Regions from separate parts of the Homo sapiens genome. Here region 2 is linked to region 1. Evidence: fine-mapped expression QTL. Tissue or cell type: testis. Region 1 holds a variant in brackets; the other region holds the start of a gene. All regions are shown on one strand. Distances are between the middles of the regions.

The links. PIP is the estimated chance that this variant, and not a neighbour inherited with it, causes the effect.
Region 2: LINC00445 starts here. The variant in region 1 is fine-mapped to the expression of LINC00445 in testis (GTEx, PIP above 0.99).

The regions. Positions count from the first base shown.
Region 1 is chr13:35,564,548-35,567,314 of GRCh38, forward strand. NBEA (neurobeachin) reads left to right here. Exons shown (of 59, transcript NM_001385012.1): 45 at 2,358-2,470. Among named protein-coding and RNA genes, the nearest start is that of MAB21L1, 89 kb to the left of the region's middle. The variant G/T (reference allele first, on the strand shown) is at 1,683.
Region 2 is chr13:35,696,737-35,699,503 of GRCh38, forward strand. LINC00445 (long intergenic non-protein coding RNA 445) reads left to right here and starts at 991. Exons shown (of 2, transcript NR_132115.1): 1 at 991-1,115; 2 at 2,003-2,520. It overlaps LOC124903224 (a long non-coding RNA gene), which reads right to left and starts at 718. Exons shown (of 2, transcript XR_007063891.1): 1 at 656-718. RefSeq lists enhancers at 1-341, 342-937.

The DNA of each region.
Region 1 (2,767 bases):
TAATAAATTTTCAAGTTTAGAATTGTACAGCTTTTATTTTACAATATTGGTACTGTTTTAGCAGATTATTGTCATGTCAAAAGACTTTAATATGGCTCCGAACTCTTGTTTAATCTCATCATTAGTATTATTCACCATAGACTTAAACACAAGCAGGTTCATTGATTGCTTGAGCTACCTAGCTGTAGATGTTTTCTTCTCGTTTAATGTAGACATTCACAATATCATTCTCTCTCATATATACCTCTACGCCTTTGCATAATCCTCGTCTTCTAAAGATAATGTTCTGCAGTTTTCCTTTACTTGACTTATATTTGTTCATCTTCTGAAATTTGGGTCATTTTATTCCATTTTTATCACATGCATATCCATTCCATCAACAAACATTTATTGGGCAGATGGCATATGCCAACACACAGAGATTAAAACAAACAAACAAACAACCCAGCCCTGACATTTATGAGTTTACAGACTGGTGGAGAGGCAGAGAAGTAAACAGCAATGTATATCAGGTGTAATAGAGGTCTGTATGAGAACTGTGGTGAGGCAACACAGGGGAAGCCCTAACCTAGCTGTAACCTCATCCCAGTAAATGCAAAGTGGAAGCAACATTCTGCTGCCATTACCCACACCTATATTACATACCCACACCTATATTACATACCCACACCAGTTTATACATTTAAAGCAATATGCAGTTTAGTTGTAAAATGCAAAGCTTCATATAATAAACAGATAAAATAGTCATCAATAAAGTGTTTTCTAAATATATTAATTAATTTGGTTTGGTGCTTGCAATTACAGATTTTGGTTCTTACTCAGATTGTAGTTCTTTTTTTTTCTATTTCACAGTTATGTTTTCCAAATGCTGTAAGAGCAGATATCATTTAATGTAATTTCCTGATGATGAACAAGATAATATCTGCATATCTATGCTACTGTGATAGTACATGTGGTGTGTGCAACCATGGCATACTGGATGAAACTCATATCACTAAATACCAGTGAAATAGCTGTTTTGTGTGAATTTTAATGGAAATTTAGAAAATTACTGATAATTGGATCATAACGCATTTTTATAAAAAATAATTTTGTTCAACAAAAGTTTTCTTAGGATCCTGTTTCTTTAATAGCTATTCTCTTAATTTCACCTGATCATGTTTTTTCAGTTTCAGTTTATGAGGGGGGGCCGCAGCTTGCTCCCCTAAACTTTCCCCATTCCCACTGTGCCTCAATATCATACCTGAAATATTTAAGTCATTCTACCAAAACATAAGCAGACATATTCACCCTAAGATCGAGCAGTTCTTCGCTAAAGTGAAACAACATAAGACAAAAAAATATTTCATGAACTTAAGGAGTGAAAAAATGTATGATTGACATCTGCCTCTGTAGTTTCTCATCCTAGCTTCAGAGTACTTCTGTCCACTCGCAAATTCTCTGCATTCATTCTTGATATAAGTTTAACATAGTATTCTGTGTACTCATAATATAATTTCTAGATATATATTCATTATAATAGAATACCATCACAGCCAGGTGCAGTGGCTCAGGCCTCTAATCCCAGCACTTTTGGAGGCCGAGGCAGATGGATCACAAGGTCAGGAGTTGGAGACCAGCCTGGCCAACATGGTGAAACCCCATCTCTACCAAAAATACAAAAATTAGCCAGGTGCGGTGGC[G/T]CGTGCCTGTAATCCCAGCTACTCAGGAGGCTGAGGCAGGAGAATCGCTTGAACCCGGGAGGCAGAGGTTGCGGTGAGCCAAGATCGCGCCATTGCACTCCAGCCTGGGCGACAGAGGGAGACACCATCTCAAAATAAATAAATAAATAAATAAAAGATAAAATAGAATACCACCACATAAGCTGCAGATGTGCAGGTCAGTGGGGTGACTTCCTCCATAATTACTTTCAGGGCCTCTGACTGGCAAGGCTCTGCTTCCGGGGTTGCAATATTATCTACATCAGCAGAAGAGAGATGAGACACACATGCAGGAAGTTTCAGTGGGCCAAGTCTTGAAGAGACTTTGCTCACATTCTGTAGATGAGAACTAAATCCTGTGGCCAGAGCTACTTGTAAGGGAGGCTGAGAAATGTGGTGTAACACAGGAAGAGGAGAATCAATTACAATAACCAGCCAGTAGCCTCTATCACAGTCTTATAAATAGTAATTCTAGTTACGTCTTAAAACAATTATTGAGTGAATTCCCTTGAAATGCATTGTTATCAGAGTTAAAGATACGGTTCAATAAATAAAAAGTTATTTTCTTCTGAAATTCAGTAGATGCTTTGTAAAAACAGAAACTATTTCATAAGCATTTTGTGTGTACAAATTTTTATTTCTGTTTTTCTTTACTAGGACGGACATATAATGATCTGAACCAATATCCAGTGTTTCCGTGGGTGTTAACCAACTATGAATCAGAAGAGTTGGACCTGACTCTTCCAGGAAACTTCAGGGATCTATCAAAGGTAACTTTTAAATATATAGAAGTCAGCTTTCTTCATAAGGCTATAGTCTAATAGTATTTCTGTCAGAGTATATATAGCCAGTTAATGTTTGTAAGAAGGTGAAACTGATTATCTTGACTTACATAGTCAGTTTCTAAATCTTACCAATTCTTAGCACAGGAATTAAGCTACAAGAAGATAAACTAGTACTAGCATAGGCAAAATGAAATGGGTATTTGAGAAACAGCAGATGTAGAGAGAGTTTTCTCATATATCCTAGGCTTTAAAGTCAAGGTTAAAAACCTAAAATTAGTAGAA
Region 2 (2,767 bases), 130 kb after region 1:
CACAGTCTGCAGGAAATCAACTCTGGCCTGATGGCACAGTGTCCGGTGGCCGCTTGGACACTGGCTCAACATGCACCAGAGCCAGGTCACGAGCTGTCACTCTCAATTCACCTTTGTTTCCAAACATTTGTTTCTGCCACTTTAAGGGGAGGGAAGGGTTTTAGCCCAAACAAACTCATGGTTTGGAGTCACTCACTGGAGGCGGAGGACACCTCCTGGGGGCAGTGAATAGGCAATGAGAGGGACTGGAAGGTCACATTTGCAGCCAGAGCCCAGGCTGCCCTGGCATGTCCGGCAGGACCATGGCCCGTCCTCCTATTGGACGGCTGCGTATCCCCTTTCCCTCGGTGACCACATTTCAGGACCCTTGATTTCTTTGCAAATCCCACCCTGCCTGGCCAGTCCCCTCACTCTCATGCCGACCGCAGAACCAAGGCTGCGCCCCTTCAAAGGCAGAGTTGGGGTAATTTTACTTGACAAGACTGCTGCCTGCCCTCCTCCTCTTTCCTCATCTGCCTTCCTCTCTCCTGACCCTGTTTATTATTATCAGGAAAAAACAATAGGTCCACATTTAAACTTCAAAGAAAAGCACGGGCTCAGGTTTCAAACAACTGCAGAGGCCTGGGCTTGGGACAGCTCCATCCCGCTCTCTCACCTGAACTACGGGGAACCTGGGGATGGATTTCAACTCTCTGCAGCCCAGCACTCAGGGTCAAGGTGAGGCCCAGTCTGTGACCACGGAGGAATTCTGGAATGTGGTGATGACCAACAGGAATTTTATGAGTGTCCCTCTGTGGAGGAGCCTGAGAGAAAGGCTCATGGAGGGCAGAGGGTGGAGGGCGTGGGACCAAGTTCCTTAGATAAGGCTGTGGCCCCATGGTAAGGGTCTGGACGGGGAAGGTCAGTGTTAACCCTTTGAAGGGCCCCCGGGGAGTGGATCAGGTTCAGAGCCCAAGGCTTTCACACATAGGTGTGTTCTAAAGCTGGTAAAGCCTCGGATCATCAGCCAGTGTCAGGTGTCACAGCATAGCCAAGCGACCAGACGAGCAGATGAGACCTTGTTAATCTCCAGTGGTGATGAGTAACCGTTCTCTCTATCACATATCACATACTGGGTGCGTTAGGGGGCCCTTAGGACTCGCTCCATTCTGCCTTACCCCACAGTGACTTGAAGGCACAGCTCCTGTTCCCCAAATGAGTCTCAGTGTGTTGTTCTCATTCCTGCCCTTTGAGTACATCTACCCAACCTACTGATTTCCCTTGTTTAATAGCATTTAAAGCTGGGTGCGGTGGCTCACACCTATAATCTCAGCACTTTGGGATTTTGAGATGGGAGGATTGCTTGAGACCAGGAATTCAAGACCAGCCTGGGAAACATAGCAAGACTCCCATCTCTACAAAAAAAAAATAAAATAAAATATTACCTGGGCACGGTGGTACATGCCTGCACTCCCAGCTACTCAGGAGGCTGAGGCTAGAGGATGGCTTTAGTCCAGGAGATTGAGGCTGCTCACTTGCTATGATCACGCCACTATACTCCAGCCTGGGTGACAGAGTGAGGCACTGTCTCAACAATAAATAAATACATAAAAATAGCATTTAAGCGATGGAGGGAGGGAGATCCTTTAGGCCTTAACCTGTGTTGCTAAACGGACCTTCAGAACTCCACCTAACATGTCAGGGACATCTTGGGAAGGCAGAGTGGAATAATTAAACAAGACTTGGTGCTGATGGCAGACAGGCCCCACTCCAATTCACCTCCACTGCTAGCTCACTCCATCTCACCTCCACTGCTAGCTCACTCCATCTCACCTCCACTGCCAGCTGGGCCTCTTTGAACAGGGCGCATAAGATAATTGAAACTTTCAGCTTATCTCTAGAATGGGGAAAATCATACCTATTTTGCAGACTTTATTCAGAGAGAAAGAAATGCATATAATATGCCTAGCATGGAAATTAATGTCCAATGTAATAGTTTTCTTTTTCCACTTTCCCCTGGAAGTGATTCATCCAGGTGGCGCTAGGAGGGATCTTCGCCGCAGAGGGCATTCGAGAGATGACAACTCTAGACATCCATGCAACTTCTGTTCTTGTGCTCCTGCTGTTTTCAAATTCCACAGTCACAGACTGCACCCTGGAAAACTCAGGACACCCTAGAGTGAACTGCTCTGAAGAACAAAGTTGCTACTTGCTTGCTACCTCTGGTTGCTACCCCTGGTTGTGTTTGGTTGCCACATAATGAAATGATTTTCCTTCCCTCTTTTATTTCCTTTCTTTCTTTTTTTTCTGCTACAAATGGAAAAATAGTTTGATCACCTTGAATCTTTTCACCCTTGGTATTCTCCCCCTTCACACCCGAGCACCGCCCCTTGATAAATGAGAACACGTGTACTGAAATCGCAGACTTCACCCTCCAGACTCATCGTCCTCATGCTCTCAGGGGGGACATGTTTCCTTTCAAACCTCCAGAATAAATTCATCACAGCAGGAAGAAGATTGTTTTTCTTAAAAAAAATCAAATCCTGTATCACAATTATTTCATTTCAGAGGGAAAATGCTCCCCTTCCATCTGAAACTTTCTTCTCTCCAGCTCTGCAGTCTTTGACCGTGGCGATCCGGCACCCTCGGCCCGGCTGCTTTTGCAAAGTCCACACTGATTCATTATTTCAGAGAGCCAAAGGGTGACACATGCATATTTTGAATATTACCCTGTATGTAGATCTGCCTCTGGCTTGACTTAGGGGCTTCTAACTGCCTGATGTATTGG